3 separate regions of the Homo sapiens genome follow, and regions 1 and 2 are each linked to region 3. The links come from fine-mapping of genetic effects on gene expression. A gene starts in region 3. Each other region holds a variant in brackets. All regions are shown on one strand. Distances are from middle to middle.

Region 1 (10,896 bases), 33 kb before region 3:
TTGGTAAACTGGACTTTATTAAAATTAAAAAATGTTACTCTGCAAAAGACACTGTGAATTGAATGAAAAGGCAAGCCACAGACTGGAAGAAAATATTTGCAAAAGACATATTTGATAAAGGACTGTTATCCAAAATATACAAAGAACTCTTAAAACTCAACAATAAGAAGAAAAAGAACCTGGACGGGTGTGGTGGCTCATACCTGTAATCCTAGCACTTTGGGAGGCCGAAGAGGGTGAATCACTTTGGGTCAGGAGTTTGAGACCAGCCTGGCCAACATGGTGAAACCCCGTCTCTACCAAAAACTACAAAAATTATCTGGGTATGGTGGTGTGTGCTTGTAATCCCAGCTACTCGGGAGGCTGAGGCAGGAGAATGGCTTGAACCCAGAAGGCAGAGGTTGCAGTGAGCTAAGATCACACTGCTGCACTCTGGCCTGGGTGACACAGCGAGACTCTAACTCCAAAAAAAAAAAAAAAAAAAAAAAAAAAAGAAAGAAAAGAAAAGTAAAGAAAAGAAAAGAAAGAAAACAAGGAACCTGAACAAAAAATGGGCCAATGACCTTAACAGGCACCTCACCAAAGAAGATATTGGTGGTAAATAAATATATGAAAAGACGTCCCAAATCATATGTCATCAGGGAATGCAAATCACAACAGCAATGAGGTACCATTACATATTGATTAGAATGGCCAAAATCTAGAACTGACGATACTAAATTCCCTGATGAGGATGTGGAGCAGCAGAAACTCTCCTTCATTTCTGGTGGGAATTTGAAATGGTATGATGAGTTTGGAAGACAGTTTGGCAGTTTCTTACAAAACTAAACATACTCTCGTCATAAGATCCAGCAGTCATGTGCCTTGGTATTTACCCAAAGGAATTGAAAACTTATGTCCACACAAAAAGCTACACACAGATGCTTACCACAGCTTTATTTGTGATTGCCAAACATCAGAAGCAACCAAGATGTTCTTCAGTAGCTGAGTGAATAAATGGTGGCATATCCAGACAATGGGACATTATTCAGTGCCAAAGAGAGATGAGCTATCAAGTCACGAAAAGATGTGGAGGAAATTTAAGTGCATGTCTGTAAATGAAAGAAGCCAATCTGAAAAGGCTACATGCTGTGATTCCAACTAATGACATTCTGGAAAAGATAAAACTATGAAGACAGTGATCAAAGATCAGTGGTTGCCAGGGGTTAGGAGGGAGGGAGGGATGAACAGGCGAGGTGCAGAGGATTTCCAGGGCAGGTAAACTACTCTGTATGAGACAGTAATGGTGGATACATGTCATTAAACATTTTTCAAACCCACAGAGCGTACAATACCAATAAGGAACCCTAATGTAAACTGCAGACTTTGGGCCAATGTAGGTTCATGAATTGTAACATAGGTACTGCTCTGTGGGCACTGGCAATAATGGGAGAAGTTATGCATGTGTGAGGGCAGGGAGCACGGGGTGTCTCTGTATGTTCCACTCAATTTTGTTGCAAATCTAAAACTGCTCTAAAAAATAGTCTAACAAAGCAAGTTTGGAGAGGAAAATAGATTACATAAAATCATTTTCTTACCTAATTCAAGAGCAAATAGAGTTGAAAACTCACCATAGAAACTACATTTTTTAAAAAACGATTGGGTACAATGGCTTATGCCTGTAATCCCAGCACTTTTGGAGACCAAGGCGAGAGGATTGCTTGAGACCAGGAGTTCATGACCAGCTTAGGCAACATAGTGAGACTTCATTACTACAAAATTTTCTTTCTTTAATTAGCTGGGTGTGGGGGTGTGCACCTGCAGTCCCAGCTACCCAGGAGGCTGAGGTGAGAGGATTGCTTGAGCCTAGGAGTTCAAAGTTACAGTGAGCTATGATCATGCCACTGCACTCCAGCTTGGGTGACAGGGTGAGACCCAGTCTCAAAAAAAAAAAAAAAAAAAAAAACACAACAAACAAACAAAACTAAATTAATAAAAGCAAATAAGGAGAATAATAATGACCAACTTTCAGGGTGTTAGAAGATACACCCCTTGCTTCATCATATTGCTTAATGTGAACCGACTGAATTCTACTAAAAATAGACTTTAAACAAAGTTAGAAAAGAAAACAAGTATCCAACATTCTCTCACCTATAACAGGCATATTACAAATTAAACCATTCAAATAGTCTAAAAGCTAAGGGAAAGCTTAAGATTTATGATGCCTCTGTAGATACAAAACAAGCAGGTGTTATAATCCAGGCTGCAATACTGTTGTAGATGTCTGAGAACTCGGAAGATAATGACTAAGCCTGAGAAAGGGCCAGACAAAGGTAATTGTTTCCCAGTATCCTGGAAGATAAGAGAATCTTTATGGCTACTGGAGGGATGTGGACTCAGCTGCAGTCTTTCTGGCACCAGAAGAAAAGGCATGTGGTAAACTAGATATTTCGTAATAGGGCCCATGGGGCAAACGATTCTATATTAATGATATAGTGTAGGTTTCACCCACAGGATCCCAGGTGTTCTGTGCAGGTGCGCACACCTGTGGAGGAGGAAGCGGAGCAAACTTTAAACTGCACACATTAGGAAGCCTGGGACAGTTAAAGAGTTCCCAGCATCAGATATGTCCAAAAGAAAAGCAAGTAAGATTAGCAAAGATACATGCCTTTTTCCCTCAGCAAAAAGCAATGAAGGTTGAGTCTCCCTTTAAAAATAAAAAATCGGATTATGAAGCAGTAACATTCAAAATCATATTATATTGAATTAAAAACAGGTAAACTGTTTAGTGGAATAGATTTCCTAGAAGTAGATATTAACAATGGTAACAAATCAATATAAGACTAGCCAGCAATAACACATCTATAGAAAAGTGTATTTTTTAAATAAAAAATGATCAAAATTATATTCATCTGAAGAAGAATTAGCACCCGCTATGCACTGTATATAATAAACTCCAGGTGGGTCAAATTAGGCTAAAATGTTTATTGTGGATATTTTCTTTTTAGTTTTATCTAACCATCAGTTTCCCTTTCCCTGACATAGCAATCCCATTGTAATTTCCTAGTGTGAAACTTCTCCCTGAGTATATATGTAATGTGGGTGGGAAGGTCAAGTTCTTTTACCATCTCCCACTTGAAAGCTGAAGGCCATTCACCCCTCTTCTCCCTGCCCAGTGCAGACAGTAGATGGGCACTTGACCTAAGCTCAGCCAACCCAGTGGTCACTCCTGGAACTTTGATTCTTAAACTGATACAAGGACAAAAGGAAAGAGTGGTTGGTCAGTTTCATCACACAGGCTGTTCCAATTACAAAACGACTGATGTCCTTTCAGTTTCTTGGTTCTTTAGAACTCCATGGTCCTTTCCCATGTTCAAGTATGTGTTCCCTCAGTCTCATAGCAATAATTCGCTTATATTAGCCAGAGCGAGATTTTTACTACAAGTTGAGTATTCCTTAACCAAAAGGTTTGGGACTAGAAGTGATTTGGATTTCAATTTTGGCAGGATTTTAGAATATTTGCATTATATGTTTACCAATTGAGCATCCCTAATTAAAAAATCTGAAATCCGAAATGTTCCAGTGAGCATTTCCTTTGAGCATCACTCTAAAATCCAAAACTTACTGAGCACCAGTGTGACGCTCAAAGGAAATGCTCACTGCAGCATTTCAGATTTCAGATTTTTGCATTAGGGAAATTCAACGTCTCAACCTGTGTATCCAGATGGAGACGGCAATTCCAAAGAACAAACTGAAGAGGAAGAGGGTATAGGAGGTGGATGATGGTGTCACAGTTCACCTGGAAATATCTTCTCTACAAGGAAAGGTGTTTTTTTTTTTTTTTTTTTTTTTTTTTTTTTTTTTTGTTGTTGTTGTTTTTTGAGACAGGGTCTCACTCTATCACCCAGGCTGGAATGCAGTGGTGCAGTCTCGGCTCACTGCAACCTCTGCCTCCTGGGGCTGAAGCGATCCTCCCACCTCAGGCTCCTGAATAGCTGGGACCACAGGGGTGCACAACCACACCTGGCTATTTTTTTTATTTTTTATTTTTTTGTGGAGACAAGGTTTTGCCATGTTCCCCAGGCTGGTCTTAAACTGAGCTCAAGCAGTCCGCCAGCCTTGGACTCCCAAAGTGCTGGGATTACAGGTGTGAGCCACTGTACTTGGCCAGGAAAGCATCCTGACAATGATCTGATGGTTTACATTTCTTCTGCTTGCTTCTCCCTGTGGGAGGCATATACCTCTCTATCTTTTTGCTTATTTTATTTTACATTTTTGAGACAGGGTCTCAGTCTGTTGCCCAGGCTGGAGTGCAATGGTGTGACCATGGCTCACTGCAGCCTCGCCCTCCTAGGCTCAAGCACTCCTCCCACCTCAGCCTCCCAAGTAGCTGAAACTACAGGTGCACACCTCCTCGTGTGGCTAATTTTTAATTTCTTTTTTTTTTTATAGAGATGGGTTCTCACTGTGTTGCCCAGGCTGATCTCAAACTCCTGGGCTCAAGCAATCCTCCTGCCTCGGCCCCCCAAAGTGCTGGGATTACAGGAGCCAGCCAGTGTGCCTAGCTCCTACCCCTTTAATGTTGGGTTGGCCACAACTTGATTGGCCAATAGAATGCCAGTGGATGTGATGGCTACCCTGTCTGAGCAGCCTTAGGAATGATTAGTCAATTTTGCTTCCAAAACATATTCTGTACTTTATCCACTCCATTGCATCCTACCAACATTAGCCAAATCTGAGATAATCTCTGTCAACTACTTCAATAACCTTCTAACTGTCTCCTGGCTTTAGTTGTGTACCTCTGAGAACCATCCTTCACACAACTGTCACACAACAATGTCAAATTAACCTTGTAAGGCCACAGATGAAAGCCTTCAATGGCTCCCTCTTTCCCACATGGCACTGGAAAGCTGTCATGACTTGTCTTCTACCTACCCCTTAAGCCTCATCCTTTGGCCTTCCCTGCTTCCCACTTTATGTTCAGCAACACTAAACACCCTGGACACTCCTCCATTCCTTTGTCCATTCTGTTCCTTTGTCCAGACTGCCCTCCTCTCTCTCCTAATTTTTGTCCAAATAACTTCTGTTTGACTCTCAAGATTCAGCTCAATATCAGTGCTCCCAGAAAGTCTTCCCTAGTACTTCCTGGGCATGTATTTGCCCTGTGCTTTCTTGGTACCAGCACACACCCCGGCACTTCCCCACCTTAAATTTAAATGATATATTCTGTCTTTTTCTCTTCCAATAGATTTGCCGTCTCCTGGAGGGCAGGGACTATATCTTATTTAGCTTTTGGTCCCCAGACTCTAGCCTGATGTCTGGCACACAGTAGGTGTTCAATACACATTAGTGGAGCTGAAATCGAACAAATTAAACATTAATATAAGCAAATTCTGAAAGCCTTCTGCCTCTATTCTTACAAAAGCTGGTGGCATTATAAATGGGTTCTTCTGGAAAGCAATATAGCACTATATAACAAAAACGATGAAGATGGTCATTCTCCTTGACTTGGTATTTTCCCGTTTGTGAATACTCCTCAAAGAAATAATCCAAAGGAAAAAAAATGTACACAGATGTCCTGGCAACTCTAGTTATAACAGTGAAAAACCTGGAAGCAATCCAAGTGTCTAACAGGGAAATGACTAAGCAAACAATGGGATTATTACATAGCTATTAAAAAATGACAGAGGTGAGGACTATGTCAACATAGACAAGTGTGTATCTATCTGCAGGAACGTTAAGTAGAAAAAAGAACACAGGCTAGTGTTTAAACACTAGTGATTAAGGATGTGTGTGTACATTAACAAAGATTGGAGGCTAATTTGGAGGAATGAAAATGGCTGGAGTGCAGTACTTGTTGAGTCTTTATTTTCCTGTGCAGTTCCATGAATTTTTGACAATAATACTTGAGATTCCATGCAATATAGATATCCTAGAGGTCTTCTGCAGAATAAGTATTCTAAGTTATACCAAGCTGTATAGTCCAAGAGAAAATTTTATGTTAAATTCTTATAAAATTGTTATAAAATAATGATATTTCTTTAAGTGAACAAAGCATTTTTCTTTAGTTAAATTCAACAAGCAACTATGAGAGCTTGACTATGTTCTAGAGCACTTACATTCTGGGGAAATTCAAAGAAATCATGGGCAAAAATCCTCAGGTGAATATGTGTTATTATTTTAATTTGCTTTTTTTTTTTTTGAGACAATGTCTGGCTCTATTGCCCAGGCTGGAGTGCAGTGGTGTGATCTCGGCTCACTGCAGCCTCACCTCCCAGGCTCAAACCATCCTCCCAGCTTAGCCTCCCAAGTACCAAGTAGCTGGGACTACAGGCACACACCACCGAGGCGCCTGCCTCAGCCTCCCGAAGTGCTGGGATTACAGGCATAAGCCACTGTGCCTGGCCGAATTTATTTTTATTTTGGTGAATGTACATATTAGAACAGATGACAAAGGAAAGTCTGCAAGACCTTTGGACTAAACCTCACATTTACAAGTTGTCTCAATTTTATTTTTTATTTCAATTTTATTTATTTATTTATTTTGATACAGAGTCTGGCTCTGCCACCCAGGCTGGAGTGCAGTGGAGCAATCTTGGCTCACTGCAACCTCTGCCTCCGGG[G/A]CTCAAGCGATCCTCCCACCTCCACCTTCCCAGTAGCTGGGACTGCAGGCACAGGCCACCACACACAGCTAATTTTTGTAGTTTTTGTAGAGATGGGGTTTTGCCATGTTGCCCAGGCTGGTATTGTATTCCTGGGCTCAAGTGATTCTTCCACCTCAGCCTCCCAAAGTGCTGGGATTGCAGGGTCACCATGCCCGGCCTGAATTTTATATTTTTGATGTCTCCAAAAGAGGTCCTATATTTAGTCACTGAGATATACAGTTAAGTATTAAAAGGAAAAAGTCATCATCACATAACTTTAAACTTGTGCCACTTTTCCACTTGGTGCACTATGAATTAATATTTTATAAATCCTGTGACTATATTGTGAATAGCAAAATACTGACATAAGATATATTACATTGCAATTAAAAGAAATAAGCCACAATTTTTTATATTCCATTATAGAATTTCTTCATTTTTAAAAATCAACTGAGAGGCTAGGCACTGTGGCTCACACCTATAATTCCAGCACTTTGGGAGGCCGAGGCGTGTGGATCACCTGAGGTCAGGAGTTCAAGACCAGCCTGGCCAACATGATGAAACCCCGTCTCTACTAAAAATACAAAAAATTAGCCAGGGGTGGTGGCAGGCACTTGTAATCCCAGCTACTTGGGAGGCTGAGACAGGAGAATTGCTTGAACCTGGGAGGCGGAGGTTGCAGTAGGCTGAGATCGCGTCATTGCCTAGGCAACAAGAGCGAAACTCCGTCTCAAAAAAATAAAAAATAAAATAACTGAGAGTCTCAAAAAATGGAGGTGGCCCAGTCCTCTGAAAGGCCTTGAGCGTAATTATCACTTTATCTTTTTTTTTTTTTTTTTTTGAGACGGAGTCTCGCTCTGTCGCCCAGGCTGGAGTGCAGTGGCATGATCTCTGCTCACTGCAAGCTCCACCTCCCGAGTTCACGCCATTCTCCTGCCTCAGCCTCCCGAATAGCTGGGACTACAGGCGCCTGCCACCATGCCCGGCTAATTTTTTGTATTTTTGGTAGAGACGGGGTTTCACCATGTTAGCCAGAATGGTCTCGACCTCCTGACCTCATGATCTGCCTGCCTCGGCCTCCCAAAGTGCTGGGATTACAGGCGTGAGCCACCGCGCCCGGCATACTTTATCTTTAAAATGTAATAGTTTTAAGTAGGGGCCTAAAGCAAATGGGTTGTTGATAACTGTATAAACACCTCCTAACATAGTCCTTTCCGCTAGACTTACTGTTTCTGCTGCCATGTAACTGGTGGTCAGAAAACTACCAGTTCTGGCTGGCCATGGTGGCTCACGCCTGTAATCCTAGCACTTTGGGAGGCCGAGGTGGGCAGATCACCTGAGGTCAGGAGTTTGAGACCAGTTTGGCCAACAATGTGAAACCCCATCTATACTAAAGATACAAAAATTAGCTGGGCATGGTGGTGCGTGCCTGTAATCCCAGCTACTTGGGAGGCTGAGGCAGGAGAATCGTTTGAACCTGGAAGGCGGAGGCTGCAGTGAGCCGAGATCGCACCACTGCACTCCAGCCTGGGCAACAGAGCAAGACTCCGTCTCAAACAAACAAACAAACAAACAAACAAACAAACAAACACTACCAGTTCCTAGAGCAGTGGTTCACAAACCTGGCTGCAGGTAGGAATCACCTGTATTCTCCCAGATCCCACTCCAGACCTCTTGAATTAGACTCTCCAGGGCTGGGGCCTGAAGATTCCTATGCTTAAAAAGCTCTTTCTCGTCCTTCCTACACTGAATTTCCTCATGGTTCGAGGACTCAGAATTCAAACTAGTACAGCTAATGCCGCGGTTCAGCTGCATCAAGAGTTTAACACAGTGACAACTTGTCTCTACAAAAAGTCAAAAAATAAGGCAGGAGGATTGCTTGATCTCAGGAGGTCAAGGCTGCGGTGAGGCGTGATGGTGCCATTGCACTCCCACTTGAGTGACAGAGTGAGACCCTGCCTCAACAAAACAAAACAAAACAAAAAAAGAGTTGAACAGATCTGAAGGCTAGTTTGAAGGCCAACTACCATTTTCAGTGTAGTCTCTCTAGGGTGATGTGTTGGAAGTGCCCAACAAACAATTTAAAAGAGAAGTCTGAGGATGTGGTCCACAGATTTTTTTTTGTGGAAACTGACCACACAGAACTTTTGAACAAAATGCCTTCATTTGTTCCTAAAATTTGTTATTGTGTCTTTACTATATGAAATTAAACAAATGCTGGCTGGGCATGGTGGCTCATGCCTGTAATCCCAGCACTTTGGGAGGCTGGGGCAGGTGGATCACCCGGGGTCAGGAGTTCGAGACCAGCCTGTCCAACATGGCGAAACCCCGTCTCTACTAAAAATACAAAAATTAGCCAGGTGTAGTGGTGCACGCCTGTAATCCCAGCTTCTCGGGAGGCTGAGGCAGGAGAATTGCTTGAATCTGGGAGGCGGAGATTGCAGTGAGCTGAGATCATGCCACTGTACTCTAGCCTGGGCGACAGACTGAGACGCCGTCTCAAAAATAAATAAATAAATAAAAGTAAACAAATGCTGAATTGAATCGCTAAGTTCAAGTGTCAGTTCTTATAAACAAGGTGAAGTACCAGTTGGGTTTTTTGTTTGTTTGTTTGTTTGTTTTTGGAGACAGAGTTTTACTCCGTTACCCAGGCTGGAGTGCAGCGGTGTGATCTCGGCTCACTGCAACTGCTGCCTCCCAGGTTCAAGTGATCCTCCTGCCTCAGTCTCCTGAGTAGCTGGGACTACAGGAGCACGCCACCACACACAGCTGTTTTTTTTGTATTTTTAGTAGAGACGGGGTCTTACCATGTTGGTCAGGCTGGTCTCGAACTCCTGACCTCAGGTGATCCACCAGCCTTAGCCTCCCAAAGTGCTGGGATTACAGGGGTGAGCCACTGCACCCGGCCCCAGTTGGTTTTTTTTTGTTTTTTTTTTTTTTGCTTTTTTTTTGAGACAAGGTCTCTATCATCCAGGCTGTGTTGCAGTGGTACCATTATAGCTCACTGCAGCCTTGACCTCCTGGGTGCAAGTGATCCTCCTGCCTCAGCGTCCTGAATAGCTAGGACTACAGGTGTGAGTCACTATGCCCGGCCAATTTTTAAATTTTTTGTAAAGATGGGGTCTCATTATGTCAACCAGGCTGGTCTCGAACTCCTGACTTCAAGCGACCCTCCCTCCTCTGCCTCCCAAAGTGCTGGGATTATAGGCATGGGCCACCATGACTGGCCAAAGTACCAGGTTTTTATGGGCAGTAAAACTTTAGCCCAAACTGTCAATTAACTCAATTTTTTTTGCCTCCATAAAGAGGCAAATACAAAGAAAATGGGCTTTCAACACAGAGAAAAACAAATTCCAAGATATGGGCTGAGGTCAGTATACACGCTGTCTATTTTCCTCTACCTTCTGGTTCTTCATCCCACCTCTGTACTATGATATTGATGCTCTGAGGAAGACCCTGTATCCCAGCAATATTCCTCATCTATAAAATAAAGATTTAATTGTGTTCCTCTAAACCCAAAACACACAGGATGATGTCCAGGGAAGTTAGAGGAACATGTGTCAGCTGAAGAATCAGTGGTATGTTCCCTCTTGTCTACCTCCCCAATTCGCGCTGGCCCACATCCCATTTGGAGTGACCATGTCTATGGAGATAGAGGAGGATATTCTTCCACTTCTAACCTCAAAAGGACACACTGGAGGCATCTAGATTGAGGTTACAGCTATCCTTTGAGGAGCTGTAACAAGAATATTTGGAAGTGGACCAAATCTAGAATAATCAAGTTTGAAAGGACTATGGTTGTCCTTTCTGTTGCTACTGTTGTTATACTGTGTTGATAAATACAAAGTATAGTCATAAAGGTGGGGGATTTAATCATGTTCCAGAATGATACGGCTGTTAAGGCTTTCCAGGTAAGCCAGAGAGTTGAGATAATCCTTATTCAAGTGAGAAACGAATTTGGCCCTCCTTATCTGGAGGAGAGGGTTAGAAGGACGATGGATGGATTTGGGGACATGTAGTAGGACTGAATTCCTAGGCTGAGCTCCAACCACCTCTGAATGCCCCAGAGATATCTATGTTCCATCTGGTCTGGTCTGCAGCAAGTCCACAGAAGCTACATTCACTTTTCTGTGCTGAATTATCAAAATAATTGCCCTTCAGCCCATGCCTCATGACCCTGTAGACAGAATCCACTCATTTCCCTATCACATGGGCTACAATTGCTACTTCAAATGAAAACCTGGGAAGCCAATGCCCTATTGTGGTTGAAAGT
Region 2 (10,896 bases), 28 kb after region 3:
AACCCTGGGAAATAGGACCAGAAAGAACCACAGGCTGTGGTGTTGGTTACAGAAAATGAAAGGATCCAAGTTATCAAAAGTGGGTAACAAAGCAACATCAAGAAACTGTGTCCTTAAAACTAAGAGAATATACAAGACATTCTAATCCACATGGTTCTTAGGGTGAAATCTAGCCTCTGGGCAGGTAAGAAATCAGGGTGTGAGTCACCCCTCTTTAGCTGGAATGACAAGAGACTCAGACCATAACTCTAGAGATTGAAGGGTTACCCACACCCGCATTCCTTTTCATGCCTCACCTATCCCAGGTATGCACTAAAACTACCGCTAAAAATAACTGCAGAAACTTGAAGTCTGGGAAATAGCACTGAACAGTCTCACCTGAAGTGAAGAGCTGATTGGTGCCAAGTGGAAAGGAGACAGGAAGAAAATGGGCTCCTCTGGAACCATGCAGTCTCTAGGAGGTGGGCCCCAAGGTCTGCTCAGAGTCTTGGAGCTTTTGTTTGCTCGTAGCCATCCATCCCCTTATACCATCCAAACACAAAGGATGTCTCCTGTCACTGTCACCCTTCAATCATCTGCCAGTGCCGTCAAAGAGGCCGGAAGGAGCAGGAGGAATTGGGAAAGGAACAGGTGGGGAAAGTGTAAGTCATCGGACTGTTCACTGTTGCTGTGTGACCTTGTGGGAGTTACTAAACCTCTCTGAACCTTGAGTTTTCTCATTTGTTAATATGGAAAGAAGACCGTCAAGCCTATCTCTGTCACAGAATCTTTTTTTTTTTTTTTTTTGAGATGGAGTCTCTGTCACCCAGGCTGAAGTGCAATGGTGCAATCTTGGCTCACTGCAACCTCCACCTCCCAGATTCAAGCAATTCTCCCACCTCAGCCTCCCAAGTAGCTGGAATTACAGGCATGTGCCACCATGCCGGGCTAATTTTTGTATTTTTAATAGAGGCAGGGTGCCATGTTTGTCAGGCTGGTCTCGAACTCCCGACCTCAGGTGATCCATCTGCCTCGGCCTCCCAAAGTTCTAGGATTACAGGTGTGAGCCACCACACCTGGCCTGCCTCACAGAATCTCGAACCTAGTTTTTAAAATTCTGTTTCTTTCCTCCTTCCCTTCCAGTGTCCACCATATCCTAGCCAGTGTGCCAGATACTAGGAAACCAATACTGAAAAAAGAGTCAGATGCTATTTTTGCTGAACTTAGCCTTAGTATTGTATAGTGATTGTGCTTCCTACTAGGCAGGGACCGCGCCTAATTTGTGGATATTACTAATATCATACAGGGCCCATACGCAGTAAATGTTCAATATCTGTCATTTTCTGAAACCTAAGATGTGTCAGGCGGCTTGACCTGTATTATTTCTAGTTCTTTGAACAATCCCGAACAGTCGATATTATTGTTCCCAATATGAGCTATGGAGCCAGTTTGCCAAATCGGCCCCTGACTAACTGTGAGACTTTGGACAAGTTGTTAAACCTTCCTGTGTTTCAACCTTCTTATCTGAAGACACACAGTTATAGTACAGCATTGTGAAGTTAAATGAACTATACTGTGGCTCATGATAACAATCAGTAAGTGTTAGTCATTATAATGATCATTAATTGTGGCTTTTAGCATAGATGAAGACTGGCAGCGTACCCAGATCATACAGCTGGTAAAGGGCTAAGTAAAAATTTGAAGCCAAATTGGATTCCAAGCCTCTGCCCTTTACACTAAATACACTGTTTGTTATGTGTGTGTGTGTGTGTATGTATATATGTGTAATTCCATATTACTCATGCAGTATGTTCCACACAACAAGTAAGTACTATGCAAATGAACTTTCAGGTTCCAAGCTATTTTCAAATTGGCAACAGGCAGGTAAGAAAATAAGACATTCTTGTTTTCACCAGTAGATGGCAGAAGGAAGAAAAGACCACTCCGGAGAGGGAAGGAGTTTTAATTTGGAGCCGAGTGATTCACAGTGGGCTGTGGCTGAGGCACAGGGGCAGATGAGGCAGACTCCTTGTATGACTACAGTGGAGGACAGTCCCACTGGAACTAGGGGTCAGGGGTCAGGGTGGGGAGGAGAACTACCTACAGGTATGTGAAGGGTGTCAGCCTTCAAGAAGATCTGCTAGGTTGACCCAGAGGATGGGGACTGGGAGCCCCGAAGTAAAGGCAAGTTCAGATGCACTTAGAAAAAAAGGTCGCGTTCCTCTGTCGTCTCTACTGCGCGGTCCCTGGCTGTGGACCCTCCTCGTCAACTTCCAAACACTTGGTTCTTTTCCAAAGCCTGCCTTTCCCTCTGGGATGTTGATGAAGCCACTTGCTTTGTTTGCTCCTTTCCCCACCCCCTACCCCAGTCTGTAAGTCAGGAATACTCTTTCCCCCGCCTATCCCAATACACGTTGTTTGTGAGCCACCGACCCCCCTCACTGCTTCCCTCTCTCCTCACTGCGTATCCATCCAGTAGGCTTGGTCCACAGCCCGTGCTCCTGTATCAAATAAGCTTGGTGCTGGGTAACCTGTGAGCTGCTTGTTCGTTCATTTTATCCTAGAGACATGTCCTTCAGCCCAAAGTGATGGGGAGTTGTCCTTCTGGGTCCAAAAGAGTAGTAGCAGCAATCAAGCATGGTGGTCATTTATACTGGGCCAGCTCTCACTGATGTGATGCTGGCTCTTGTCCTCACACATTCTTTTGGGGGAGGAGTCCACTGGTAACTCCTGATATCTTAGAAACTCTCTTACCCAAGCTATTAAATCCAGTGCCAACTTAAAACCAACATCCCTGTCGCGATTTCTGGGTGGGTCAAGAGTGGGGACTATCCAAAGATTTCTTATTTGACATACGTCTATTTGTACATTTGTAATGGTTGTTGGTTTGGTTTTAAATAAGTGATTCTTGGACAGGGCATGGTGGCTCATGCCTATAATCCCAGCACTTTGGGAGGCCAAGGTGGGAGGATTGCTTGAGGCCAGGAGTTTGAGACCAGCCTGGGTAACACAGCAGAACCCCATCTCTACAAAAATAATAAAAAATTAGCTGGGCATGGCGGACCCCGCCTATGGTCCTAGCTACTTGGGAGGCTGAGACAAGACAATCATTTGAGTCTTGGAGGATGAGATTGCAGTAAGCTATGATTGTGCTGCTGCGTTCTAGCCTGGGTGACAGGGTAAGACCCTGTCTCTAAAAGGTAAATAGTAAATAAGTGATTCTTTACAATAGGGCTGAGGAGAGCCTCCTGTGTGTTAGGAGTTTGCCAGGTGACTGGCATATATTATTTCTTTTACTGGAGGTCATGAGTCATTTCTCGAGGAAACTGCAGATCAGAAAAGCTTGTTTGTCATATTTTAAAACTGCAGCCTAGTCTTTTTTTTTTTTTTTTTTTTTGAGACAGAGTTTTGCTCTTGTTGCCCAGGCTGGAGTGCAATGACGTGATCTTGGCTCACCGCAACCTCTGCCTCCCAGGATCAAGGGATTCTCCTGCCTTAGCCTCCCAAGTAGCTGGGATTACAGGCATGCACCACCATGCCCGGCTAATTTTGTATTTTTAGTAGACACGGGTTTTCTCCATGTTGGTCAGGCTGGTCTCAAACTCCCGACCTCAGGCGATCCGCCTGCCTTGGCCTCCCAAAGTGCTGGGATTACAGGCGTGAGCCACCACACCCGGCGCAGCGTAGTTATTCTTTATTCTGTCTTCCGTGATTTCTTAAATTCATCCAAGGGTATTCAGGAATTTTGCAGGGTGAGCCTATGCTGACAAAATGAAATTGAGCACCATAGTTTTGTGTTTTTTACTAAATCTCCAGAAAATAAAAGTGACCTTTGGACTGCCAGAAGATTCACGTGAAACCTCACATAAAATCAGCATGTGAAGACAGAGAGGATGTTGGTGATCACCAGAATCTGTTCATTTTTCCTTTGAAGATACTTAAAGGAAGTATGTGTATGTTTACAGGTTTGTATATGTTTTAGAGTGTGCCCACAAGCTCTTAGCCATTTAAGACAGACACTAAAGACTCCCTCAATTAAAAAAAAAGTTCAGTGGAATTTTGTTCATAATATCTGCCTGAGAAAAAACAGGCCCTGCTTTTCAGTCTTGAAGACTGAAGGCTCCTTTTTGAGTAGAGTAGTGGGGGCTGGGTGCAGTGGCTCATGCCTATAATCCCAGCACTTTGGGAGGCCGAGGTGGGCAGATCATTTGAGGTCAGGAATTCGAGACCTGCATGGCCAACATGGTGAAACCCCGTCTCTACTAACAATACAAAAATTAGCTGGGTGTGGTGGCTCGTGCCTGCTAATCCCACTACTCGGGAGACTGAGGCAGAAGAATCACTTGAACCCAGGAGGTGGAGGTTGCAGTGAACCGAGATCATGCCGCTGCACTCCAGGCTGGGCAACAGAGTGAGACTCCATCTCAAAAAAAAGAGAAGAGTAGTGGGAGTAGTTAGGCGACAGAAGTATGCTTTAGAGAAGGCTGGCTAGCCTAACTCATTTTCCTAATAAATGCCAGTGATGCCCCTAACCAGGCACTAGGGTCTATTGTCAGTGCGGCGTGTGGGTAAGTCACACTTTGTACCTCACCTCTTCAGCATCTATGTCTGGGTGAACTCAGAATTATGTGTGATCACCAAGGGCAGCCTTGAAGGGGACGAGAGGGCCCTACAAGGACAAGTCTCTGACTGAGAGGGTTATGTGGGAATGACAGAAGAGTGGCCCACCTGGGCGGGTTGCTGGGAGAGAGAGGAAAGGGGAGAAGGGTGTCATGTTCAGATTTACAGCCTGTCCATAAACTTCATGGTTTTATGGTACTCAGCCATGTAATCATTTCCTGCCCCTTCTCCTACTGTGTTCTCCAGAGTCCCTGAGTCACTCTTTGGCCAGTGGCCTGCAGCCAGGGCTCATTTCTCTTCTCTATGGCCTAAAGAAGTTGTTTCCGTGCCCTGGGGCACGGGCATCCAGGGACA[A/T]CATATTACAAGGCGGTCTGTTGGGGTGTGGAAGACACTAGAACCTTTATCTGTATTTAACCCATCCATTTCTAATTTATATTTTTTATGTGTTATAGTGTAAAGTTTTGCTGTAAACAATTCATAATAAATATGTATGGATATGGCATATTTGTATATATTTATTATGTATGTAATTGTTTAACATATGTGCAAGTATGTTAAAGATATTATGTTGAATAGGATGCATATCAAGAAGGTTTGGCCAGCCTGGCCAACATGGTGAAACCTCATCTCTACTAAAAATACAAAAATTAGCCAGGCATGGTGGTGGGCACCTGTATTCCCAGCTACTCTGGAGGCTGAGGCTCGAGAATCGCTTTAACCCAGGAGGTGAAGGTTGCAGTGAGCCGAGATGGCACCACTGCAGTCCAGGCTGGGCAATAGAGCAAGACTCGGTCTCAAAGAAAAAAAAGTAAGTAAGTTTAGGACAATAGCCCTAGGGAATTATGCTGATAATGGTCCTTTTTTATTATTACATAAGTTAACCCATTTATTAAAGGCTAGTGATGTCTCCAATGGTGGAGAAACATCTGGTCTTTCAATTCCTTCAGTCTTCTGACTGTAGACTTTGCTGTGACGGCAGAAGTGGTATTGTAGGTTCAGCCACCACCAGCTACTGTCTTCATGCACGAACCACAGTGCCCGACCCCCATATCTCGTCTTTTCATCTTGGTTTTGTCACAGAAAGAGCAATTGTACTTGGCGTGCTAGCCGGTTTCAATTTTCTTCACCATTTTCTGGAAGGAGGCACCATAGCGGATCCTGTATTTACCGACAATTCCAACTTTATTGGTGCATTTAGCCATGTCAGTGCAAAGTTTTGAGCCCGCAATAATCTTTAAAAGCGTTATTTTATGTTTCATTATGAAATTAACTTTTCATTATGAAATTAACTAACTATAGCGGATCCTGTATTTACTGACAATTCCAACTTTATTGGTGCATTTAGCCATGTCAGCGCGAAGGTTTGAGCCCGCAATAGTCTTTAAAAGCATTATTTTATGTTTCATTATGAAATTAACTTTTTAAAAATTTTTTTTGAGATGTAGACCTGCTCTATCCCTAGGCTGGAGTGCAGTGGTGTGATCTCAGCTCACTACAATCTCTGCCTCCCGGGTTCAAGCGATTCCCCAGCCTCAGCCACCTGAGTAGCTGGAATTACAGGAGTGCACCACCACGCCCAGCTAATTTTTTGTATTTTAGTAGAGACGGGGTTTTATCATGTTGGCCAGGATGGTCTCGATCTCCTGATCTCATGACCCGCCTGCCTTGGCCTCCCAAAGTGCTGGGATTACAGGCGTGAGGGACCGTGCCCAGCCCAACTTTTTTTTGTTTGTTTGTTTTGAGACAGAGTCTCACTCTGTCACCAGGTTGGTATGCAGTGGCGTGATCTTGGCTCCCTGTAACCTCCACCTCCTCGGTTCAAGCGATTCTCCTGCCTCAGCCTACTGAGTAGCTGGGATTACAGGTGTGCGCCACCACGCCCAGCTAATTTTTGTAGTTTTAGTAGAGATGGGGTTTCACCATGTCGGCCAGGCTGGTCTCGATCTCTTGACCTCATGATCCATCCACCTTGGCCTCCCAAAGCACTGGGATTACAGGTGTGAGCTACCAAGCCCAGCCTTTTTTTTTTTTTTTTTCTTTTTTTGAGGTGAAGTCTCACTGTGTTGCCCAGGCTGGAGTGCAGTGGTTCAATCTTGGCTCACTGCAACCTCCATCTCCCACGTTCAAACTGAGTGGGGCCTTCAAATTCTGGTTTCAAACCAGGATGATTCTCCAGTTCCTTGAGAGTTTATAGGTGTGTGAGCTATTTTCACTGTTTCCAGAGCCTAATAGAAACCTTCTATTTACCCCAAATAAGCCTGCACAGGTCAACTTTAAGGTCAAGTGTTTTGCATTCGTTAGAAATGTTAGGAAATTGGAGTGGTCCTCTCATGCTGATCAGAATGTGCGGTTACGGCCTGAGTGTGGAGTGGGCAAGTGCTGCTTTGGGGCCTGACTTGGGTCCCAACCCCCTTCTATTGTGAGGGAGTTCTGCGGGAGGAAAAGTGGGGAACACCACCTCCCATAGCCCCTGAACAGCACCAACTTTAGACCTGGGCAAGTGAGACCCTTCCCCAGGCCTGCTCCTCAGGAATCCCTGCACTTTGGAGTGTGTTTCTCAAAATGTTCCAGCTTTCCCTTCTGTGCTTGGGACATGCCAGGGCCAGCAGGTAAGAGAGTTTCAGTTGCTTCCAGCCTTTCCAATATTTGGTGTTGTCAGGCTTTTTGATTTTAGCTATTCTTCACTGTGGAAATTTTTTCCCATGGAAAATCTCTCTCTCTCTCCCTCACCCTTCTCTGTCTCTCTCTTTCCTTCTCTCTTGCTGACTTCTCTCTTTCTTTCTTTCTTTCTCTCTCTCTCTCCTTGTCTCCTCCCCACAGCAGATTTACTGAGGTATCAAAAACATGGCTGGGTGTGGTGGCTCATACCTGTAATCCCAGTACTTTGGGAAGCTGAGGCAGGCGGATCGCTTGAGGCCAGGGGTTCGAGACTAGCCTGGCCAAAATAGCAAGACCCTGTCTCAAAAAAAAAAAAAAACCCATACACATACTGGATTTGATAGGTTTTGACATATATATACATCCATGAAGCTGTGACCACGATGAAGATAATGAACACATCCATCATCCCCAAAGTTTCCTCATGCTCCTTGTCATCCCTCCCTCCTGCCTTTCCTTGCTTCCTCCTCCCTGCCTGACACCAGGAAACCACTGATATGCTTTCTGTCAATATGCAAAGTAGTTTGCATTTTTAGAGTTTTGTATAAATGGAATCATTTCTTTTTTGTTTTTTAAGACAGGGTTTTACTCCTGATACCCAGGCTGAGGTGCAATGGTGTGATCTCGGCTCACTGCAACCTCTGCCTCCCAGGCTTAAGCGATTTTCCTGCCTCAGCCTCCCAAGCAGCTGGGAATACAGATGCATGCCACAGCACCTGGCTAAATACAGTGTATTCTGTTTAAAATCTGACCTCTTTCACTTGGGATAATTATTTTGAGTTTCATCCATGTTGTGTGTTTCAATAGTTCATTCCTTTTTATTGCTCAGTAGTATTCCATTACATGGATATATCATAATTTGTCTATACTTTTCTTTTTTGGTAATGTCTTTGGCAAGATTTGGTATCAGGGTTATGCTGGCCTTATAAAATGAATTAAGAAGTGTTTCCTCGGCTGGGCGCAGTGGCTCACGCCTGTAACCCCAGCACTTTGGGATGCTGAGGTGGGTGGATCACCTGAGGTCAGGAGTTTGAGACCAGCCTGACCAACATGGAGAAAACCTGTCTCTACTAAAAATACAAAATTAGCCAGGTGTGGTGGCTCATGCCTGTAGTGTAGTCCCAGCTACTTGGGAGGTTGACGCAGGAGAATCGCTTGAACCTGGGAGGCGGAGGTTGTGGTGAGCCAAGATCGCACCATTTCACTCCAACCTGGGCAACAAGAGTGAAACTCCGTCTCAAAAAAAAAAAAAAAAAAAAAAAAAAGTTTCCTCATTCTCTACTTTTTGCCCAGGCTAGAATAAAGTGACTTGATCTTGGCTTACTGCAACCTCCGCCCCTCAGGTTCAAGTGATTCTCCTGCCTCAGCCTCCTGAGTAGCTGGGATTACAGGTGCCCACCACCATGCCCGGCTAATTTTTGTATTTTTAGTAGAGACAGGGTTTCACCATTTTGGCCAGGCTGGTCTCGAACCCCTGACCTCAGGTGATCCACCCGCCTCAGCTTCCCAAAGTGCTAAGATTAAAGGCATGAGCCAACGCGCCCGGCCTTTCCTTTTTTTGAGACAGAGTCTTGCTCTATCACCCAGGCTGGAGTGCAGTGGCAAGATCACAGTCCACTGCAGCCTCCAATTCCCCAGACTCAAGTGATCCTCCCACTTCAGACTCCCAAGTTGCTGGGACCACAGCTGTGCACCACCATACTTGGCTAATTTTTGCATTTTTTTTTTTAAGAGAGAGGGTTTCACCATGTTGTCCAGGCTGGTCTTGAACTCCTGGGCTCAAGTGATCCTCCTGCCTTGGCTTCCCAAAGTGTAGGGATTACAGGCATGAGCCACTGCACCCAGCCCATTCTCTATTTTCTGAAAGGTTTGTGTAAAAATTTTTTTATAAGGCCAGGCACGATGGCTCACGCCTGTAATCCCAGCACTTTGGGAGGCCGAGACGGGAGGATCATGAGGTCAGGAGATCGAGACCATCCTGACTAACATGGTGAAACCCCATCTCTACTAAAAATACAAAAAATTAGCCAGGCATGGTGGCGGGTGCCTGTAGTCCTAGCTACTCGGGAGGCTGAGGCAGGAGAATGGCGTGAACCCGGGAGGTGGAGCTTGCAGTGAGCGGAGATCATGCCACTGCATTCCAGCCTGGGCGACAGAGTGAGACTCCGTCTCAAAAAAAAAAAAAATTTTTTTTTATAAACAAAATATTTTTCATACACAAAAGATTTTTCATTCTGAATTATACAAAAAACTTCAAACAAGTACTGTTTATAAGATCCACTAATGTTATATTTTTAAATAATATGATTACATAATAGCTTTCTTTAAATCTGAGTTCACTCAAATTTGATGGTTTTTTTTTTTTTTGAGACGGAGTTTCACTCTTGTTGCTCAGGCTGGAGTGCAATGGTGTGTTCTCGGCTCACTGCAACCTCTGCCTCCCAGGCACAAGCAATTCTCCTGTCTCAGCCTCCCAAGTAGCTCGGATTATAGGGATGCACCACCATGCCCGGCTAATTTTTTTGTATTTAGTAGAGATGGGGTTCCATCATGTTAGTCAGGGTGGTCGTGAACTCCTGACTTCAGGTGATCCACCTGCATTGGCCTCCCAAAGTGCTGGGATAACAGGCGTGTGCCACCATGCCCAGCCTCGTTTTATCTTTACTAACTATGATTACCAAGTTGTAAAAACAAAAAATTACAACCACATTCTTGGCAGAATTTTGATGTCTGATAATACCTGGATATTGGACAGCATCCAATTAAAACATCAGTATAGCTTTCATGCATTAAATAAAGTATTTTACTCAAGTTCCCAAAACAAACTTGAGTATGTTGGGTTTGAATGGAAGCAAAAGGCCAAGTTAAAATATGAAAGCAGATGGTTTTTATTTGGTAGGAGCTGAAATGAATATTTGCGTTCTAATCAGACATCTGTGCCATGTGGCATTTTCCAAATTTTTAAGAGTCTACCAGTCTAAACACTTCACTGCTTTTACCACCTTTGCTTTGCTCTTCTCCTTTCTTTCCTCTCATTTTGCCTTCAGACTTTTTCTTTCCTTTTTTTTTTTTGAGACAGAGTCTCGCTCTATTACCCAGGCTGGAGTGCAGTGGTGCTATCTTGGTTCACTGCAACCTCTGCCTCTTGGAGTTCAAGTGAGTCTCATATCTCAGCCACCCAAGTAGCTGGGACTATAGGCTTGCACCACCACACCCGGCTAATTTTTGTATTTTTAGTAGAGACAGGGTTTCACCATGTTGGCCAGGCTGGTCTCGAATTCCTAGCTTCAGGTGATCTGCCTGCCTTGGCCTCCCAAAGTGCTGAGATTCCAGGCGTGAGCCACCGCCCCTGGCCTCAGCCTTTTTCTTTACCTCTACTTCTTCCATACTGGTTACTGCCCATACTGGTCTAGAAAACCTTTTTTTCCTCTTAATATCAGCCTCCATTTTTGTGTCATCTTTTTCATCTTTCACCACACACTCATTTCCTCTTGGCAGTGTCTGGCATCACCACAGTTGCTGTCTCTTGAACATCTTTCTTTAAAACATTGCGTCTACTTTGAGAATACTTTCAAGTCAGCTGAGCACCTTTGGGGCATTCTTTTTTCTCTTTTCAGGCACTTTTCTTTTCCACCCACT
Region 3 (10,896 bases):
GTCCTGGGTTCCTGGCCTGGGCAGGCTTCCTCCACGTTCCTCACACCCTTCCCTTATCTGTGGGGTGCCGTAGACAGAATGCCTAGAGCCACAATGCTTTTACATATCTCCAAAAACAGGTTTTCATTTCTTTCAAAATCAAAAGAAGGCCAGGGCAGGGCGCGGTGGCTTATGCCTGTAATCCCAGCACTTTGGGAGACTGAAGCAGGTGGATCACTTGAGATCAGGAGCTTGAGACTACCCTGGCCAACATGGTGAAATCCCACCTCTACTAAAAGTACAAAAATTAGCTGGGCATGGTGGCACGTGCCTGTAGTCCCAGCTACTTGGGAGGCAAAGGTTGCAATGAGCTGAGATCATGCCACTGTCCTCCAGCCTGGGCAACAGAGTGAGACCTCATCTCAAAAAAAAAAAAAAAGGAGGGGGGGCCAGGTGGCTCACACCTGTAATCCCAGTGCTTTGGGAGGCCGAGGTGGGAGGATCACTTGAGTCCAGGAGTTCAAGGTTGCAGTGGCACAATCAGAACTCACTGTACTCCAGCCTGGGCAACAGAGAGAGCCTGTTTCTAAAAACTAAAAAAAAAAAAAAAATTTGTTAACTCGGAGAACAAGTTTTAATACATAACATTAATATATTTATCTGTATACTAATGCAGTTGTAAAATATAATTTTTAATACTTTTTTGTGGAAGAAGAGGTGCATGAAGGCAAAGGAGTCTGGGGCTCATGAAAACCTTTGAGTAAGATGGGGTCAGGCCCTTCGACCTCTCCTTCTGGAGCCCATATATTGTTTCGGGCTTGCTTTTCCTCCCTCATCATTTAGAGTGTTTATTTAGATTTCCTCTTTAACCTTTCTCATTGTTCTGAAAGTACAGGATATGACGTGGCTCAGTGACTAGAATGGACCTCTATTATTTCCATTCCCAGAGTATAAATATCCAAACTGCTTCAACCTGATAGGAATAGTCAAAAGCAGACAATCATCTCGGCTACTGCAGGCTTTCCTCTTTGGAACCCACCTATGGTCATCCTGTCAGTCTGACATGAATCTGGTCACTGGGGTAGGTGCTGTTCCAAGGCCCAAACTTTGCTGGCAGGAACAGACTAAAGAACTGAGCAGCGCTGACGCTGCTGTCACTGCATGCCACATCCTCTTCACGGCCCTCGATACCCTGGGGACACTGACACCAGAGGAAGTTTTAAAAACAGCCTGTGTCTGAATTATCCAAGAACAAACAGAAAAGACTTGCTTGGCTAAAATCAACAGGGTTTGATGTTACAACTGCAGTTGAAAGGCTTAAATCGGTTCTCTTTAAAGCAGCAGGCACCCCCAGACATCTTATGGGTGATTCCTTTTCTTTTCTGTAACGCATTCGAACAAAACTCAGGTAACTTTAGAAGGTATATGATATGCAAATTTATAGACCTTCCAGTTGTTTCCATCTGAGTCCCCTTTTCAGGCTTTTTATCTCTGCTTCCCCTTGCTCCCCAATCAGGATCCTCTCCTCTCAGCTCTTCTTTCCCATTCCACTCTCCTAAATGCAATCACAGGATGAGTCAAGGGGAAGCAAAATAAATACTGCAGCTGCTTTCTCTCTTTGTTTTTACAGAAAAGTCTGTGTGGCTGCTTTTGAAGAAGAAAGCTGCTTTCGATTATGTAAGATGATGCTCTCTTTGGTAAAAGTTTTGGTCTGGTCTCAAGAGACTTGGCTTTTTTTTTTTTTCTTTTTGAGACGGAGTCTTGCTCTGTTGCCCAGGCTGGAGTGCAGTGGCATGATCTCGGCTTGCTGCGACCTCCACCTCCCAGGTTCAAGCAATTCTCCTGCTTCAGCCTCCCGAGTAGCTGGGATTACAGGCTCACAATACCACACCCAGCTAATTTTTGTATTTTTAGTAGAGACGGGGTTTCACCATGATGACCAGGCTGGTCTTGAACTCCTGACCTCAGGTGATCCATCTACCTCAGCCTTCCAGATTGCTGGCATTACAGGTGTGAACCATTGCCCCCAGTCTAAGAGGCTTGGCTTCTATTCTTGTCTCTTGTGATCTTTACTCTTTCTTTACTCTTGTGTCTCTTTACTCTCTGGGACTAGAGTTCCTCCTCTGTCAAAAGAGGAATACAAACTCCCCAGCCGGTCTATGTAACAGAGAAGAGGAAGAGGAAGAGCCCAATTTAGCTGGGTAGATTCTCTTTGGGAGAAGTTGACTTCCCCTTATCCCAAAGCATATGTATTGACTTTGGAGACCATCTAGAGTGGCCCAATTCCAAGTCATAGGAGAATGAGATGGTAGCCATGAGGAGGGCTAAATAGAGAGATGGAATGCCTTAGACTGGGCTAGCATAATTGTATGCCTGTGACTGCCCAATAGAATCAATTTCAGGGTGACCTGTTGTCTTATGCAGTGTGTATTTTCTCTCCTTTCCTGTAACTTGGAGTGAACTAATGTAAAAAGACCAAAGTCCCCAGCCTATTCTGCAGCAGTGTAATCTTTTTTTACTACATATATATGTGTATATATATATATATATACATATATATATAAAATTAAAAAATATATATTTTAGACAGAGTCTCACTCTGTTGCCCAGGCTGGTGTGCAGTGGCACGACCTCGACTCACTGCAACCTCTGCCTCCCAGGTTCAAGCTATTCTCCTACCTCAGCCTCCAAAGTAGCTGGGATTACAGGTGTCCGCAATTATGCCTGGCTAATTTTTGTATTTTTAGTAGAGACAGGATTTCACCATGTTGGCTAGGCTGGTCTTGAACTCCTGACCTCAAATGATCCACCTGCCTTGGCATCCCAAAGTGCTGGGATTATAGGTGTGAGCCACTGTGCCCGGCCAGGAATGTAATCTTAAATATGGAAAAACCTCACTCCCTAAAAAACAAAGAGTGAAGTCCTCTCTGGTCTGCTATGGTTCCTGATCCCAATGCTTTGCTGTTTTACTTCAGCCAGGCAGCATTTCCAGAGCATCCACTTCTTGCCAGGGCCTGTGCTTAGAGCCAGGGGTATGAAGATCATCCCTTGTCTCTTAGATTGTTGGGGACCAGCCTCAACACCACCCGTAGGGTACCCAAAGTCCGGTGGCAACAAAGGAATGAGAAGAGACAGGTTAAGAGTGCATAAAGAGTGGGGGCCGGGGGGCCAATTGCAAAATGGAGGCTGCAAAAGGCCCAGAGTTCTGGTCTTCACTCTATTTATTGAGTACAATCCCTTAGATCTAAGAAGCAGATGTTTAGGGTGAAACAGTGAAAGGGAGGCAGTATGTCATAGGCGTAATCTATAGCAATGGCTGTTTAAATGAGTCTCCTTTGTTCTCAAACAGCATATCTTTAACTTATCGAAGAGTAGCTAGTGGGAGTGGGCTTAACTAGGAGCCTGAACGTCTGTCCACATTTCAATGCTTCAAAGGAGTGTCTTTCTCCTTGAACACAGTGTTTATAGATAAGAGAGCAGGTTGCGCTCAGAGCATGGGAACATAATGGCGATAAGAAGGCTTTCCTCCTCAGAGGCCTTTTGTGACTTGCCACAACTTATTGTCCCATATTTTTATGGCCCGTTTATGCAGGCACCCCACAAGCCCTTTTCCCAACATAGATCAGGGGTCCCCAGCCTCTGGGCCATGGACTGGTGCCAGTCCGTGGCCCGTTAGGAGCTGAGTTGCACAGCAGGAGGTGAGTAGCAGGTGAGCAAGCATTACTACCTGAGCTCCGCCTCCTGGTAAATCAGCTGCGGCATTAGATTCGCTTGGGAGCACAATCCCTATTGCAAGGGATCTAGGTTGCGTGGTTCTTATGAGAATCTAATGCCTGGTGATCTGTCACTGTCTCCCATTACCCCCACATGGAACCATCTAGTTGCAGGAGAACAAGCTCAGGGCTATCACTGATTCCACATTATGGCAAGTTGTACAATTATTTCATTATATATTACAATGTAATAATAATAGAAATAAACTGCACAATAAATGTAATGTGCTTGAATCATCCTGAAACCATCCCCGCCCCAATTCTGTGCAAAAAATGTCTTCCACGAAACCAGTCCTTAGTGCCAAAAAGGTTGGGGACCGCTGTCTTAGATGGTCTCCTTTTCTCACTCTTTCTACAGCCTATCTCCATATAGAGTTAGAGTAATATTTTAAATGTGTAGATCATGTCTCTTCCCTGCTCTAAACCCCCAGTGGCTTCCTTCTGCATTTAGGATAACATCCAAAACCCCAGACCTTTTACAACAGGGTCCTGCAGAGTCTGAGCTGAGCCCAATTCTCTGACCACATCCTACCCTTTTTGTTGTTGAGACACTGCTGTGATGCCTAAATCAGGGCCCTTTTTTAGTTGTGGTGGTGGGGAGGTCGGCAGGCACATTGAGTTGAGTTCCTCACAATTCTCAGGTCAAGCACACTGGCATCACAAGTCTCCTCTCTTGCTTTGTGTATTTATTATCCTTTTTTTTTTTTTTTTGAGACGGAGTCTTGCGCTGTCACTCAGGCTGGAGTGCAATGGCATGATCTCAGCTCACTGCAACCTCCGCCTCCGGGGTTCAAGCAATTCTCCTGCCCCAGCCCCCCGAGTAGCTGGGATTACAGGCACAGGCCACCATGCCTGGCTAATTTTTGTGTTTTTAGTAGAGACTGGATTTCACTATGTTGACCAGGCTGGTCTCGAACTCTTGACTTCAAGTGATCCATCTGCCTTGGCCTCCCAAAGTGCTAAGATACAGGTGTGAGCCACCGCGGCCGGCCTATTGTCTTATACACTTAATTCTTTTATTCCCAATTCCCAGTTTTATTCTAATTCTTCTCCCTCTGCAGGCAACCATTCTAAAATATTTCAAGTGTATCTTCTGTTGGATGTGTTTTAGCAGAATGTGATATCTGTGGGCCTATATTTTAATATACTTGATATATTTTATGCTTTTCTCACTAAGCACTAGGTTTTTCAGATCTAATCATATTGTTAAGGGCATGTTTGTAGACACCATGTTCACATTTTAACTATGCATTTTCCCAGTGACGGACACCAGATTGCCCCCAACTTCCCATCCTCAGGAATAAAACTGCAACGAGCACCCTGCGCAGTGTGAGACCCAAGTGACAGGCCACAGGAGGGCACTCGCTGGCCATGGGGCATGCAACATACAGCTCTGAATTTGCTGCTTTCCAGAATAGCCTTAGTAGCTTCACAGTCTTGGTACTTGGAATTCTCTCACTCTGGAATGATTATCTCCTGGGATCTTAAAGCGTTTTCTCCTGCTCAACAGTGAGGTCTTAACTCAAATATCACTGTCTCAGAGAGGCCTTCCCAATCTCACAGTTATCCCCACAACCCACCCTCCCCAGGTTACTCTGTAATTTTTATGTGAACAGGGTTTCACTCTGTTGCCCAGGCTGGAGTACAGTAGCACCATCTCCACTCACTGCAGCCTCAACTTCCGGGGTCAACTGATCCCTCAACCTCAGCCCCCTGAATAGCTGGGATTACAGGCGCATGCCACCATGCATGCCTGACTGATTTTTGCATTTTGCAGACACAGGGTTTCGCCACGTTGCCCAGGCTGGTCTCGAACTCCTGGGCTCAAGTGATCCGCCCGCCTCGTCCTCCCACAGTGCTGGGGTTACAGGCGTGAGCACACCCAGCTACTTTTCACAATTTGAAATGCTCTGTGATAGCTTATTTATGATCTGTCTTCTTTTTCTTCACGAGGGCAGGGGTCGCTGTCCTATTCACCAGCCATCTAGCATAGCCTTAGCAAATGGTAGGTTCTCAACATTATTGAATAAAGTAATGACATAATAAAAAAATAGTATTGTAATATCAATCCGTTCCAAACTCTATGGTTAGAAAAGCGGGGAACATAACTGGCGACACACGTAGGGAAGGCTCTTTAAAAGGGACCTAAAGGTCAACTGGAGTCCCTGGTGATCAGCCCCTTCTGCACTCGGATCTATTCCGCAAGCCTACGCGCCCATATTCACTGGGCCCCACCTGCCTAGCGGACGGGTGCAATCCCCGGCAAGCCCGCAGGGGGCGCGCAGAGCACGTCGTCCGGGGAGAACTAAAACTACATTTCCCAGCATCCCGCGCGCCGCAGACCCACTTCCGGAGACCTCACACAAGATGGCGGCACCCGAGGAACACGATTCTCCGACCGAAGCGTCCCAGCCGATTGTGGAAGAGGAGGAAACTAAAACATTTAAAGACCTGGTGAGAATGGATGACGCTGGCTTCTTTTATGTACTCTGGTGCTAGGCTCAGGGAGACCCCAGGTACCTTAGATCCCGCTCTGATAGTGTACAAAAGCATCTTGGGGCCTAGCTTGGGTTTTCCCCAGAATTTCAGAGGGCTGGGTTTCGGACGTGCTCTGAGTTTGGGTGGTGGGAGGGCTGCTGGGCCCTGAGACCCCCTATTTGCCCTATTCGCCACTTTAGTGTGGCAACGTTTGTATGTGCATCCAGGAGGTTGTACATATGGGGAATGGAATTGGTCTCTTTATAACTGGAGCTTTGGAGTCAGATGAACCAACCAGATTTGAATTTTGACACAGTCTCTTACTGAGGACAAGTTGTTACCTCTCTGTGTTTCTCTTTCCACATCTGTAAATTGGGGATAGTAATAAGTACTTACCTCGCAGAATTGTTGTGACGATTAAATGAGATGATACATGTAAAGCACCTGGCCTTGGCCTTGGTGAGCAGAAAGTGTTCGTTAAGTCTTGAGCTACTGTCTCATGGTATAGTTAAAGAGTAGGCTCTGAGATGCACAGTAAATACCTTTTAAATCAAATACAATGGTTGTACATGATGGGTCTGACAGTCAGTTAAGTAGGAGGGAGGTAGGGGTGTGCTGTTCTTGGCTAAGGTATATTTTTCTGAATTCCAAGGGTGTGACAGATGTGTTGTGTGAAGCTTGTGACCAGTTGGGATGGACAAAACCCACCAAGATCCAGATTGAAGCTATTCCTTTGGCCTTACAAGGTAGGTTGTATGACTTCGTACAGATTTAATATAAAGTTATCTCAATTAGATACCCCTTTTGAAAGCTGTTGCTTGCATACTTCAAGTGAAATAAGGATATGGTCACTAAAGGTACAAAGTTTGGGTAATGGTATTTGAAAATGTCATTCTCCAATTTTACTGAGCTTACTTTCTGTCTTAATAGCTGAAAGGGTTTGTTCTCTGCCACAGATGCTGACTTTAAGGAAGCCCTAGGTTAAAGTTAAAGTATATTAACGACAATCTTGGTAGACTTTATGCATCAGTGGGCGCACACTTAGGGAAGGATGCCTGGAACACATATGTGTGTCTTGAGGAGTTGAGAATTCTTGCTGTGAGCCATGTTTATCAGATTTGTAAAACAGTGGTTAAAGCAGATTGATGGCTACTGGAACTGAAACTAATGGGATGAACTTTTTTCTTTTTGAGATCTTTTTTTTAAGATGGAGTTTTTTTTGAGATAGAGTTTCGCTCTGTCGCCCAGGCTGGAGTGCAGTGGTGCGGTCTTGGCTCACTGCAACCTCTGCCTTCCAGGTTCAAGCAACTCTCCCGCCTCAGCCTCCCAAGTAATGGATTACAGGCGCATCACCATGTCCGGCTAATTTTGTATTTTTAGTAGAGATGGGGTTTCAGCATGTTGGCCAGGCTGGTCTCGAACTCCTGACCTCAAGTGATCTACCTGCCTTGGCCTCCCAAAGTGCTGGGATTACAGGTGTGAGCCACCACATCTGGCTGTAACAGGATGAACTTTAATAGGAGTAGAAGTAAAGTCCTGCTCTTAGATTCCTAAAGTACCAACTTTACAGGATTAGGGTGGGTGATAAAAGAGGCCCAGAGGTCTTAGTTAACTGAAATCTATTAAGATCCTCAGAGAGAGTGAATGTAATCATAGCAATTGTTATAAGAGGGGTAATGTGGCTAATTATTGTTAGTATTAATGTAGCTATTACTGTATTACTATATTATTAGTGATTAATGTAAGCTATAATTATTACTCATTAGTAATTAATGTAGTGATTATTATTGATAATAATTGAAAGATTTAATGATTTGAAGAGCTGTCATGTGGAAAAGGGGTTAGACTTACTCTACAAAATTCCATTTGCTCTTTCCATAAATAGTTACTATTTGTTGTAAATGTAAGGCACTGGAGGTTAACAGTCTGTCCTCTCCAAGAGTCTATAATCTATTAAAGAGATAATTATAAATTTATTACAAGTTGAACAGGGACCTAAGAAAGTTACATTCAGAGTGCACTGAGGGAGAAGAGATTACTTCTAATTAGGATGGATTAGAGAAGATTTATTTCATTTTATTTTTGGCTGGGGAGGTTGGGAAGACATGTGAGCTGAACCTTGAACACTGACTTTAGAAGGATTTAGACATTCAGATATGATGGGAGGGGAGGACTTTCTAGGCATAGGGAACAGCATGAAAAAAAGCCAACTGGAAAACATGGGCATGTATGGAGATTTGCAAGTACTTAGCAGAGTGGTGAAAAAGTTTAGTAAGGTGATTGGGGCCGGATTATGAAGGATTTGAGTGCTGGGTCAAGGAATTTGGTCTTCGTTTCATAGGCAGTGGGGCATTTTTGGAGATGAAGGATTTAGAGTTGTACTCTTGGAAGATTAATCTCATAGCTGTGAAAGATCATTAGAAACAAGAGACTGAGTCTGGGAAACCAATTAGTAGGTCTTTGTAATGATTTTTGCAATCAATAATGGGTAGGGTGGTGGTAGAATGAAAAAGAAAATGTTGGAAAAAGAATCATTATGATTTTACAACCAGTTAAGCAAGTGGAAGGCAAGGAAGGGGTGGGGAAAATCTAAGTTTCTAGGCTGTATGTTTAGGGCATATTATTGGTGTACCACTGATACAAAAAAGGAACGGGGGAAAAATGCAGGAAAGATGAGTTCAGTTGGAAGTAATTGATTTTGGATATCAATGAGATAGAGTTGACCTTGTGGGAGGGGAATGGGGAAATGTTGCTCAGGGTACGGTTTCAGTTAGCCAGGATGGATAAGTTCTGAAGATCTATTGAATAGCATGGTGACTACAGTGAATAATGTTTTGTGTATTTGAAAATTGCTAGGAGAGTGGATCTTAAATGGTCTCCCCACAAAAATGACAAGTATGTGAGGTGACAGATATGTTAATGAGCTTGATTTAATCACTTCACAAAGTATACATGTATCTAAACTTTGCATTGTATACCATAAGTATAATTTTTTGTCAATTAACAAAACTGGGGGACAATAAAAAAGGAAAAAAATACCCAGTTGGAATCCTGGGATTGGAACTTGATTGAGAGGCCAGAGCTGGATATACACACTGTATCCAAAGAGCGGTTATAGCTGAGATTGGAAATGGATTAGATTGGCAAAGATGACAGAGGAAAATTGGAAGATTCAATAGAGGGTTGAAAATCATGAGAGTATAGTTTCACACAAATTAGGGAAGGGAAACTGTTTCAAGGAGGGATTAGTAAACACTTCAAACTTGTGCAGAGAAGTTTGGAGGATAAGGACCGTATAAAGGCCAGTGGTGGGAAAGAACTATCAGCGGCCCAGTGTTACTTTTAAATAGCAAGAAGCGTTCATGCATTTTAACTTTTCCAGCTTGCCCTACAGTGTAGGTGAGAAGGAGTCAAAATAGCTGGCAGTAATCCTAAAATTATTCTGATGTTTTCAGCCATAAGTTTAAATTTGATGCAGAAAAGAATAGGGAGGGGTCAGTGGAAGATTACTAGGAACTGACAGAAATGATCACCATAGAAATGTCTTTATCCTTATTCTTGGGTTTGTCTCATTCTAATGAATAGTTTATAAATGCTTCATTTGAATCTATAGAAATGATTCAAATAATCTGTTTGTTTTTGTTGCTGTTGTTATTCGGTGAAAATAACTTCTAAATTTGAATTTGGGACTACTGACGTTTTCAGTTTCTGCAAAGTTACTGAGCCCAGATTGTCCGCTGTTCTTAAACCTTATAACAATGCTGAATGGTAGTTACGGATAATTATTTTATTAGTGAGGAAATTGAGACTCAGGGAGTTAAGTCCTTTGGCTAAGGTCACCTAACTAATTATTGCTAGAGCCTGAATTTGAACATAGAATCTTATAGCTCAAAAAACCTCTATTAATGGACCTGCATCAAAGTTTGTTACTATCAAGAGATCAAAAGTTGTTTGATGGGCATGGTGGTTCATGCTTGTAATCCGAGGACTTTGGGAGGCTGAGGTGGGAGGATTGCTTGAGACCAGGAGTTTGAGACCTGCCTGGGTAACACATTGAGACACCATCTATTTATGTCTGTTTCAGAGATCACTTAAAGTTGTCCTCAAGGAATTTCAAACAATTTATTAGTGGCTGCCATATAGCAAGCGCTTATGTTCGGTGCCAGCAATGTGGCAGGTCTATATGACAAAATCTATTCTGCTCTTATGGAGTTTATGCATTCTGGTATATTCTCTACAGGTATAAACACTGAAAAGGCTTAGCGGTTTCTTCAGAGATGAAGAAAGGAGATGACGTAGAAAAATATATCAGTTTCACAAACTGAGGGTTGCTGTGAGGGACTTACTAAAAAACTGAAAGCAGTGCAGGCCTCAGCTGTAGGCAGTGAGCAGTGCTTATTGCTTCATGAACTAAGCGACTTCAGCTCCTTTACTTCCCTAAATCTTTCTTATGTACTCCTTTCTTCTGAAATGTTAAGATTTCCCTTGACAAAAAAAGGACAAATCCTAGTTCCCCCGCCTGCTGTTCCCGAAGGTGTATTGTGTTACACAGGCTGGGACGGCAGTATCCCCAAGGAGTTGAGGAATAAAAAGCTTTGGGAATCATTTGCTTGCACTGACCTTTATTTCTCAGATAGGTAGATGCTGTTGCAATTCATTGTTACCT

The links. PIP is the estimated chance that this variant, and not a neighbour inherited with it, causes the effect.
Region 1: its variant is fine-mapped to the expression of DDX47 in whole blood (TOPMed, PIP 0.99).
Region 2: its variant is fine-mapped to the expression of DDX47 in whole blood (TOPMed, PIP 0.95).

What each region holds. Positions count from the first base shown.
Region 1 is chr12:12,774,082-12,784,977 of GRCh38, forward strand. It overlaps a transcript of APOLD1 not described here. Among named protein-coding and RNA genes, the nearest start is that of APOLD1, 6.1 kb to the right of the region's middle. The variant G/A (reference allele first, on the strand shown) is at 6,603.
Region 2 is chr12:12,835,279-12,846,174 of GRCh38, forward strand. It overlaps the pseudogene RPL37AP9. Among named protein-coding and RNA genes, the nearest start is that of DDX47, 27 kb to the left of the region's middle. RefSeq lists an enhancer at 1-808. The variant A/T (reference allele first, on the strand shown) is at 4,954.
Region 3 is chr12:12,807,249-12,818,144 of GRCh38, forward strand. It overlaps DDX47 (DEAD-box helicase 47), which reads left to right and starts at 6,098. Exons shown (of 12, transcript NM_016355.4): 1 at 6,098-6,206; 2 at 6,883-6,976. The coding sequence starts at 6,120. RefSeq lists an enhancer at 5,925-6,234.